4 separate regions of the Homo sapiens genome follow, and regions 1, 2 and 4 are each linked to region 3. Evidence: fine-mapped expression QTL. A gene starts in region 3. Each other region holds a variant in brackets. All regions are shown on one strand. Distances are between the middles of the regions.

Region 1 (2,677 bases), 60 kb before region 3:
CTGGTGCACAAGAATCACTTGAACCCAGAAGAGGAAGGTTGCAGTGACCCAAGATCATGCCACTACACTCCAGCCTGGATGACAAAACAACACTCCATCAAAAAAAGGAAAAAGAAACAAGACTTGCAAAGCTTCAAAAGACTGTAAGTGGGAGGTAGAGCTTAGTCCCTCATGCACACTTGAGGATGGGCTGGCCCAGTGAGTCCCTTCCACAGAGCAGACATGCAAATGGGAAACAGCAGAGGAGCCCAGCAGACACGTCCCGAACCAAGAGACCCAGGTGAGCATCTGTAGAGACGCCACGCAGGTGCCATGTGTCCTGATAAGACGTCATGAAATGGGTACTTCACCTCCATGGTGTTTTTATCCAAAACGCATAACCCCAGTCTAATCACAGAGAAGACACCAGACAAAATCGGAGTGGGGAACATTGTACCGAATACCTGGCATTACTCCTCAAGACTCTTTTTGTTTTTTTAGAGTTTTTTGTTTTTTGTTTTTTTTTTTTTTTTTTTGAGACAGAGCCTCGCTCTGTCGCCCAGGCTTCAGGGCGGTGGTGCGATCTCGGCTCACTGCAACCTCTGCCTCCCGGGTTCAAGCAATCCTCCCACCTCAGTCTCCCAAGTAGCTGGAATTACAGGCATGCGCCACCACACCCAGCTAATTTTTGCACTTTTGGTAGAGATGGGGTTTCACCATGTTGGCCAGGTTGGTCTCAAACTCCTGAACTCAAGTGATCCACCCACCTCAGCCTCCCAAAGTGCTGGGATTACAGGAGTGAGTCACCGCACCTAAACATCACTCCTCAATATTCTCAAGGTCTTGGAAATCAAGGAAAGACTGAGAAACTGCCACGGGCTGGAGCAGGCTACAGAGACATGACAGTTAAGCGCAACGTGGGATCCCAGATTGGATCCTGGGTCAAAAAATAAACATAAGTAGGAAAACTGATGAAATCCACACAAAATCTGTTTAGTGAATGGTAATGTGCCAACGTAGGTCTCAGCTTTGACAACTGTGCCAAGGCCATGTGAGATGCTCATAGCAGGGAAGCTGGATGAGGGGTATGTGGAGCTCTATGTTCCCTCTTCAGAACATCTCTGAAAATCTAAAGCTATTCTAACGTGAATTTTTTTGAAGTCCAGGTTCAAAAAAACAAAACAAAGACCAAAGACCACTTATGCCAACCTAGAGGGCAGAGGCCTTAGACTGTCAAGAGAACAGCACCGTTGCCAAAGAATCAACTTGAACTTCCCTTCCTGGCACCCGAGCCTGTAGCAGATGAAGAGTAGGACAGGGCAGGGGAAGAGGGAGGGGAGGAGGCTGCGAGGAGGGATCTCTGCTGTTGAGCACCTCCTGTGAGCCAGGCCCTCTGCCTCACCTTCCCAGCACCACACAGGATCCTGGCATCTTCTGCATTCTGCAGGGAAGTAGAAGAACCTGCCCAAGATCACTCTGCCAGGGAGTGGCAGGGCCAGACCATGAGGCCAGCTTGTCTAGCTCCCAAGCTGGGCTCTGAGTGCCACCCTCCACTGCCTCTCAGATAATAAGCAGAGCGGTGGTGGTGG[C/T]GAGAATGCTCCTGCCTGTCCTATCCGGTGCAGCAGCCACCAGCCACGTGGCTATTGAGCACTTGACATGTGGCTAGTGGGACTAAGGAACTTAATTTTTAACTCTATTTGATTTCAAGTAATTTAATTTTAAATAGCTACACATGACTAGTGGCCACTGGACTGGGTGGTGCAGGTCTAAGTCACCTGCCCTATTAGAGGAGCAAGTGTCAGCTCACATTTCACTGCCAGAAGTCAACAGTGTCACCCCAGGGCAAGGAAGGCAGCACATTTGGTCCTGGGGAGACACTTTCCACCAATGACAGGAAGTAAAGGCCAAGAGAGGACAGGGCTTCTCTGGACCAGGAAGGTGGGTGATGGGCTGATGGGAGCCACCTGAACCCCGATTTCTAACAGCTGCTTCGCTGAGCCGCCACCTCCTCAACACAGAAACATCCTGAAGGCGCCACATCAGTTGCTCGGAATTGCTCAGACAGAACCAAACTCTTCCGGCTGGAACAGACGTGAGCTTAGAAGAGGTTGGCTGGACAGTCTCCCGGCCACAGGTCCTCTTTGCTCTGATATGTGGCCATGACAGTGACCGTGACAAAGCATCCGCCATGCACTGCTTGCTCTGCTTTACATGTAATTGCACGTTTTTTTTTTCTTTTTCTTTTTTTTTTTTTGACAGTCTCACTTGGTCACCCAGGCTGGAGTGCAGCAGCACGATCTCAGCTCACTGCAACCTCTACCTCCTGGATTTAAGCAATTCTCCCATCTTAGCCTTCCAAGTAGATGGGACTACAGGCACGCGCCACTATGCCCACCTAATTTTTGTATTTTTAGTAGAGATGGGGTTTCGCCACGTTGGCCAGGCTGGTCTCGAACTCCTGACCTCAGGTGATCTGCCCACCTTGGCCTCCCAAAGTGCTGGGAGTGAGCCTACAAGCCCGACCTGCACATTTAATTTTGCAGGAACACACCGGAGGCAGGTGTTGTTACCCCTATTCTACAGGTGGGGAAACTGAGCCTCACAAAGTTTCAATTACCCAGAAATCACTCAGCTAATTAGTGGGAGCTGGGATCTTACACTACGTCTACCTGCAAAGCTTCTATTGTTTCAACCAGAC
Region 2 (2,677 bases), 90 kb before region 3:
ACCTCAGGCTGGATGTCAAGACCCCCCCTGCTAGTGTCAGGGCCACCAACCCATCCAGGGACACCCTGGGAAAACGTCTTTTTTCTAAAGGGGATTTTTTTCTGGGAGGGAGGGAGGATATTCAGCAAAATTCATTCCCAAAACCCGTGACTCTGACGACAACCATTACTCTCCCCTTCCTTCCCCATCCTGTCTGGGAAAAGGACAGATCACCCCGAGCCTCCCCGGGACATAAAAGGACAGATCACCCTGAGCCTCCCCAAAGAGAAAAAGACAGATCACCCCCAGGCAACCCCAGGACAGAAAAGGACAGATCACTCTGAGCCTCCCCAGAGAGAAAAAGATAGATCACCCCCGGGCATCCCCAGGACAGAAAAGGACAGATCACCCCGAGCATCCCCAGGAGAGAAAAGGACAGAACACCCTGAGCCTCCCCAGAGAGAAAAACACAGATCACCCCCAGGCATCCCCAGGAGAGAAAAGGACAGATCACCCCGAGCCTCCTCGGGAGAGAATGCTGTTGTTCTCCAAAGCATCATCTCTCTCAAGTCGGCACACAACCAAAAGTCCCAGTGGGACCAAATGCCCAGGGTGTGCCAGGCACTGAGGATGGCTCTTAATATTCCACATCTCATTGAATCAGCTCAGCGGTCCTTGAGGCCATCCCCATTGCCCAGGTGAGGAAACTGAGATTCCAGGGGTAAAGTGACTCGCTGAGACCCACCCACTGTTGATTGACAGCACAGGACAGAGCCAGGCCACGTTCACCATTCCCTGCATTGAGCAGCTAGTGCACAGTGTGACAGGAGCCAGGGGAGGCCCCACCGCTCCTAACATGCAGGAGGACTTGGGGTCCCCCACAGCTGCTAAGGCCAGGCTCCGCCTCACTATTTCCACAAGGAAACCAAACGCCAACTCAAGAGACCACTACTCGGACCTTGAAGACAGCAGGGCCCCCCGCCCCAAGGGCTGCCAAATGTGCCATGACCCAAAACTTGGAAGAGGAAAGTCCCGTGGGCTCTGGCAGTCAGCGCTGCCCCCTTGGCAGATGAAAACCAACAAAAAGAAAAAGAAAACCAGGATATTGCACAAA[C/T]GGCCCTCTGGAGGCTCCTGCCTAGGCTATTTTGAAACAGCTGGCATGGTTCCGTTTCGGGTTACACCCAGTTTCGTTTCTGCTTCTCCCTGGGTGATGGTGATAGGGACATCACTAAACAGGTCACAGAACTGGCCAGGACTGTCCAGGGAGGGCCCTGGAGGGGGAAGCCCAGGGTGCGGCCTCCACCACACTCTTCCTAACATCTCACATGGTCCAACCTACCCTCACCCAGCAAATGGAGACATGGAAGCTTAGAGCCTCTAGTCCTTTGCCCAGCATCAAAGAGGTCTCCCTTACCTCCAGCCAGGGCCCACCTCACAGAGCAGGAGAGGGCAGAACGGCTCTTCCCAACCACTACGGAATTTATTTCCTCCTCCCAAGAGGCCTCTCCCCACTGTGGCTGCACAGGTGTATGAGGCAAAGCAAGAGAAAGCCTCTTGGTCACCGAAGAGGGAGCCGAAGGTGGGGAGAGGAGAAGATTCCTGAGCGCAAAGGCCAGCACGGGTGGTCATGGCGGGGCTGAAGGCTTTTTCTCCCGAGACATTCCAAACTCGAGGCTTGTGTGGGGGATGGCTGAGTTAGTCCTGCCTGGAACCAGGGGGTGGAGAGTGACCCTGCCCCTCATGCCCAACCTGAGCCACGTGGATGGGGACATCCCCAGGAGAGGGCGCTGTCCCCTCCCCATCTCGTCTTCCCCAGCCCAATCCTCCTGGAGCAGGTAAAATAAACTCAGATGCCTTAGGGGCTTGCAGGTAACATCAGTGGGAAAGGTGGGTAGGAACCAAGGGGAAGTGGGCAGCTGCCACTCGGGGGCTGGTGCCACGTGGGAAGGTGGGTCGGTGAGCCAGCTCTTCCTACCCTCCCAGGAGACCCACAAGTCTGAATTTTATAGGATCTCTCTCAATTTTTAAATGTTGGCAACTACTGCCATGTTCTTAAAACTACTGTGTGGGCCGGGCACCGTGGCTCATGCCTGTGATCCCAACACTTTGGGAGGCTGAGGCAGGAGGATCACTTGATCCCAGGAGTTTGAGACCAGCCTGGGCATCATAGTGAGACCCCATCTCTACAAAAAAAAAAAAAAAATTAATTAGCTGGGTGTGGTAGCTCGTGCTTGTAGTCCCAGCTACTCAAGAGGCTGAGGCAGGAGGCTCACTTGAGCCCAGGAGCTCAAGGCTGCAGTGAGCCGTTATTGTACCACTGTACTCCAGCCTGGGCAACAGCATGAGGCCCTGTCTCAAAATAAAATTAAATTAAATAGAATAAAATACTGTGTGGGCCACAACACAACCTGCAACCTGAATTTGGCCTGAAGCAACAGAGTCCTAAGATGTGGGTTGCCTGAAGCTTGGCACTGCAGGGGACCCTACAGGAGGCCTTGTCCCTGCCCCACTTCACAGGCATGGGGTGGAAAGCAAAGATGCTGATGCAGGTTAGACAGCATTCTATACTGTAAAGTGCAGCACACATGGAAAGGGCCACTCTCCCTCTGGGTACTCCTTCCTGGACTCTTAGAAAGGTCTACCCCGTGCTGCTGAAACCTCCCTCCTGGGAACAGCCAGCCATAGGCCTTAGTTCTGC
Region 3 (2,677 bases):
AGCCTTCCTTACAGGAGGGTTCTGAGCTTCAGCCTGAGGGCCCGATGAAGGGGAAGGGCAGTCCCCAGCCCACAGTCACAGGGAGCTTGGAGATTTCCGGAGGCTGACCTGCTTTCTAGTCTGTGTGTCCAGGGCCTGAACACCGTGGGGGGCACAGTGCTGGGCGGATGCTGGGAAGAGCTATGCATTCTAATGAGCCCGCACAACCTGCCCTCTCTCCCCAGAACCCGAGGAGGAGCAGATGGGGCTCCCGGCAGGTGGGGCGTGGCTTCCCAGTAGCATCCTTAAGGGAGGCCAAGGACTCTGGGGCAGAAACTGAGCTCCAAAGCCAGTGGGAAAGTGCAGCCCACCAGCCACCACCTCTCTACTTGGCACTGATGCAACGCAGGGCCTCCTGGCTTTCAGGGCCAAAGGAAGATTCGAGACCCCCGCCCCAGGGCCCCGCTTTGGCAGAGGGAGGAAGAATTGTCCCCATGCCCCCTACAGTCAGGCCTGCTCTCCCTCTCGGAGGCCATCCCAGCGACTCCAGGGGGGCTGGTCTTCATCTAGGGCCCTCCCTGACATATATCCCTGTTCCAGGGAGGATCCGGGACTGGCGGCTCCGCAGCCACGGCCTCCGGCTGACCCGGCATCCTCTCCTCCCACAGTCTCCTCCTGCAGGAGGCCGTCCCGTTCCGCCTCTGGGCGGGGGTCCAGGGTGGGAGAGGCTGACTCACCACAGAGGCGACAGGGGCACTCCCTGACTTCACCCGATCCCAGGGACCCCCAAGGTCAGCGCAGGAAGAAGTGGACCACAGGGGAAAGTGAGGCACAGGGTGGGGGTGGGGGTTCCCAAACTGTCCTGACTCCAGCCGGCTGGAGGCCACACACACACACAAGCTGAAGCACAAAGGCCACTCGCCCTAGTAACACCAGAACTCCAGTGACACAAGGAGAGACCCACACAGAGGGGAGACGCGGGCTCGGGGCTCTCACACCCAGACACAGGGACACAGCGGCGGACACGGCCCCCGCCCGCCCACGGCGACACGCCCAGGACACCCGGAGGACCCTGGCGCCTGGAGCGCCTCCCGCGCACTCGCAGACTCCGGCACACGCGAGGATCCCGCGGAGGCAGGGCCCCCGCGCTCACTCACCCACCTCGGCTGCCCGGGCCCGCGCCTTTGTCGTCCGCGCCGCTCACAAAGGCGCCTGGCGGCCGGCGCCGCGCCTCCAGCTCCGCAGGCCGCCGCGGGCGCCCATGGCCGGGACGGCGCCCCCACCGCCGCAGCCGCCGCCACCCGAGCCAATGGCCGCGCCGCCCGCCCGCCCGCGAGGTCCGGGCCCGCCGGGACTGCGCCCGCGCCCGCCGCGCTCCGAGGCCTGGTCCCGCCGCCGCCGCCGTGCGCGACGCGGCGCCGCCCCCGCCCGCCCGGTCCCGGGGCGCCGCGGCTGAGGTCACCGCTTAACCCCTGGTGGCCGGGGCAGCGGCCGCCGCGCCCCCTCCCTGCTCCCAGCGCGCCGCGAGGGAGACGTGGCCTCCCCCGACCCGCTGCGAGCCCCCAGCGGTCCCGGCAGCCCACCGGCCCCCCACAGTACAGGGGGGAAACTGAGGCCCGCGGGGATGGGGCCCGGCCCCGGCCACACGGCGACCTCCTCGCTCCTTCACCTACCCCGGGGTCCCCACTTCCCGCCTCCCGGTTCTCCTTCCCCGGTTCTCCGCGGGGAGACCCCGCAGGCGCGCAGGGTGCTGGCTTCTCCTCCCCCACTTCAACATTTTGCCCTGAGGTTCCCCCAAAAGGGTGAGAATCCTGGACCGGCCCCAGGGGAAACCCTAGACTTATGACCTGCCCCTCAACCAGTCTTGGCGGCCCCGTATTGCCCCCCACCCCCGCCATGGCAACATGGGGAACCTTGCAGCCATGCAGCCAAACCTCCAAGAACAACCCTGGCGGGTTCAGGCATTGACGGCTTTGAGACCGGCAACACCCCAGTGATGTAGCCCCATTTTCCCTAGGAGAAAACTGAGGCTCAGAACTGAGAGTAACTTGGCAAAGCTCACTGAGCAGCAAAGTGCTGAGACTGAGATCCTAGCATTCCCCTGCCTTTGCAGCTCCAAAGCTGCCAAACACTAGGTACTCCCTCCTGAAATTCCAAAGAGGGCCTCTGGATATGATGCAATTAATTACAGTTATCAGGTCATTAATTAAGATTATCCGCGTTGTTGTTAAACACTCCCCCGCTACCCCTCTATTTGCAAGGAAATTCACACGCGGGCTTATCAGCAATTACTCCTGGGTTGATAATGATAAGTTCTGCAGCCTCCAAAGGGTACAGGTGCACGTAGGTTGAAATCATTTTCAGCTTGTGTTCCTTACAGCCCACAGCCAGCAAAAACTTTTTTTTTTTTTTTTTTTTAACTACTCCCTATTTGTCAGGCACCAGCCTCAGGGGCTACCAGTGAGACAAAGAACCAGACAGACCCCAGCCCCGCCCCCTCGGAGCTCATAGGCTTAGGAGAAGACGCAAATAAACAAACGGCTACAGTGCAGTGAGACAAGCCACACAGGCCACGCACTGAAATCATCTTATTCACCGACTTGTTGGTTTGTTTATTGTCCCTCTCGACACAAGAACATAAGCACCACAGAGTTGTCCTGAGCCCCAGGCTAGGGCAACACTGGCTCATAGTTTAAGT
Region 4 (2,677 bases), 85 kb before region 3:
GGGCCAGCCCCTGCCCAAGGACCCTCAGTGGTTGGGACAGTGTCCCAAGCTCTCCAGGACCCTGTGTGGGGCTAATGTCCCTTAGGAATCCCCTGTTCTGAAGCTCGAATCTGAAATGGCCAAGCTCAGCATGTTTACTGAGCATCTCCTCCATGCCAGGAGCCCTGCGGGTCCCGGGATTCCCTGTGCCTTCACTCCCTTCCTGCAACCCAGACTCAGGCCACCAGCAGTCCCTCAGCGTCCCCCACAGAGGGGCGTGCAAACTGAGCTGTCAGTTACAATCAATTTCACTCTAGAAGTGGAGAAAGATGAGGCCAGAGTCCCACAGCAGGTTGGGTGGGTTATGGATCACGGACAAGAGCCCAGACCTCCTCCCTCCTACCCCAGGAGGCACCTCCCAGCCCACAGGCAAACCCTGTGGGTTGAAGCTGCTGGAATCCTGAGCAGTACCTGAAGCAGGAGTATGAACTGTGGGAACCTCTGGATGGGCTTGACCATCAGCCCGTAGAGGGTGACACGGTCTGGGCTGCACACCTGCCGTCGCTGGTGGAGACAAGGTTCCGTCATTCGCTGACCCCCTGCAGAGAGGGCCCAGTGCCCCAGAGTCCAGACACTGTCCCCATTCTGGGCTCCTCTCCCCAGGCCCTAAGACCCTGCCTATCCCTGGGCTTGCAAGAAGAGCTGAGAGAGGTCCGTGGTTCTGCAGCCAGGGATCCCTCTCCCACCAGTGCCCCTGCATGGCCGCGCACCCTCAGGAGACTAAAGCAGTCATCTTAAGGTCTCTGAACTAAAGGCATAACTGGGAAACTCAGCAATTTATTCAAGATGTCAGACTTCTAGAAGTGGCCAAGGCAACCATTCCCTCCACTTAAACTAAATGCAGACAGATTTGGGCTAGGGTAAGGGGCGGGGCACAGGGGGACCTTCTGTCCTGTCTCTTGCATCCATCCCCCACTCCATCCACACACCTGTTACCTGGTCCTGGCCCCCATATGCTGCAATCCCACAGTTTCTCCACCTGCCTCCACTTCCATCTACCCTAGCTCAAAATCCTTCAATGGCTCCCCATTACCTGAAATATTACATCCTAGGCCCTGGGCCTGGAGGTCTAGAACCACCCAACTGAACTCAGCCGCCTCTTAGTGTGCACACTCAGGCCTTCTCTCCTGGGACTCCCCAACAGGCATCAGTGCTCCCAGAATCCAAACAGACCTGCCCATCCCTCTCCTCCTGCCTCTAACCTTTGCTCCACTATCCTTACACCTGATATAGGCTCTCCTCTGTCTTTATTTGGCACAATCCCACCATCCCC[C/T]GCCAGGGCCCATGTCAGATGGTGGCTCCTCCTGATCCCCTGTTCTCTTTGATGGGGACAGTGGGTTCCTCCACTGAGGCCGTGGCATCTAACCTGTGCTGCCGGCACATGTGTGCGTGTCCTGGCACCTAGCCCAGTTGCATCCTCTGCCAGCCAGCAGGCTCCCTACAGGCAGGGGCTCTGACTCACCAGACTACACTCCCAAAGAAATCAGCAGAGGCTGGGCACATGAGAACTCAGAAGCTTTTCGAAGCCTTTAACCTTTACTCTCCCAAGCAATGCCCAAGATACCCCTATAAGGAATTTCCTCACCCTTTTATAAATGAGGAAAAGGAACCAGCTTAGCAACCCGGGAGCCACAGCCCACCACAGGGCCAGCCAGGCAGACCCACCCACTCACCAGGGCACAGGAGGCAAAGGGTCAGCAAGATGACACAGGTCTTCCCTCCACCCTGCCAAAGCTCCAGGATCCCAGTTGCTTACAGACACTTGGCTACGCTCCTCCCAGGGGCAGGAGGGAACGATTTTCTTCCCATGGGACTGGGCTGCCCCAAAAGAAAGAGGGGAGCTGTCCAGGCCAAAGCTATGATGTCATACCCAAAGCTGGGGCCAAAATGCTCCCTTCCTCCTGAGCAATCTCCCTGCCCACCCTGACCAGGCACGGTACCACCATGGAGGCCCACCTTGAGGAACTCGAGGAAGGCAGGCTTGGTGAGGCAGGCCTTCTTGATGATGGACATGGCACTGGTGAAGTTGTTCACGTAGTCACTGTACACATCTAGCACCATGGACTTGGAAAACTGAAACAAGGCAGGTGTGGGCCAGGGAGACCGCCTCAATGCAGGGAGCAGAAGGAAACGAGGCAGGTGTGGGCCAGGGAGGCCGCCTCAAGGCAGGGAGCAGAAGGGCGCCTGCACTCACCCCACACTCCCTTGGGACCTCGAGCTGTGCAAATCCATCACCCCCACTGGGGTGTGGACATGGAGCTCAGAGAGGTAGAGAGGCTGGCCTGAGGTCACAGGTGGGATGGGGTGGTGCCACAGGAGAGCCCAGGGGACCTTCGCCTCCCAGGTCTCCATCCCCAGTGCAGCAGCCCAAGCCCACAGGTGGAGGGAGGAGAAGGGCAGGGGGAACACCCCTTCTACTGCATTCACGTTCAGGAAATCGAATGCCCCTTGCCCTCCACCTTTAAGGAAAGTGCTCCTGGCCTCTCACCGGGCAGCGTGCCCAGAGTTGAGTTACCAAGGGAGGGATGGTCGGCCTGGAGTCAATCAACTCTCTCTCCAGAGCCCCTTGATATACACCCAGAACATCAGACCTATTCAGTGACTCTATCGAGCGCTGTGGCTTTCAAAAAAAAGTTTT

What was found.
Region 1: its variant is fine-mapped to the expression of ARHGEF10L in whole blood (INTERVAL, PIP 0.95).
Region 2: its variant is fine-mapped to the expression of ARHGEF10L in whole blood (TOPMed, PIP above 0.99). The same link has a PIP of 0.9 or more in blood mononuclear cells.
Region 4: its variant is fine-mapped to the expression of ARHGEF10L in whole blood (TOPMed, PIP 0.97).

Annotation. Positions count from the first base shown.
Region 1 is chr1:17,598,888-17,601,564 of GRCh38, reverse strand. All of the region lies in intron 4 of ARHGEF10L (Rho guanine nucleotide exchange factor 10 like), which reads right to left. Among named protein-coding and RNA genes, the nearest start is that of ARHGEF10L, 61 kb to the right of the region's middle. The variant C/T (reference allele first, on the strand shown) is at 1,569.
Region 2 is chr1:17,628,697-17,631,373 of GRCh38, reverse strand. The region is part of intron 15 of ARHGEF10L (Rho guanine nucleotide exchange factor 10 like); the gene reads right to left. Among named protein-coding and RNA genes, the nearest start is that of LINC02810, 88 kb to the left of the region's middle. RefSeq lists enhancers at 579-1,230, 1,231-1,884. The variant C/T (reference allele first, on the strand shown) is at 1,094.
Region 3 is chr1:17,538,414-17,541,090 of GRCh38, reverse strand. ARHGEF10L (Rho guanine nucleotide exchange factor 10 like) reads right to left here and starts at 1,393. Exons shown (of 29, transcript NM_018125.4): 1 at 1,141-1,393.
Region 4 is chr1:17,623,822-17,626,498 of GRCh38, reverse strand. It overlaps ARHGEF10L (Rho guanine nucleotide exchange factor 10 like), which reads right to left. Exons shown (of 29, transcript NM_018125.4): 13 at 1,996-2,112; 14 at 451-543. Among named protein-coding and RNA genes, the nearest start is that of ARHGEF10L, 85 kb to the right of the region's middle. The variant C/T (reference allele first, on the strand shown) is at 1,313.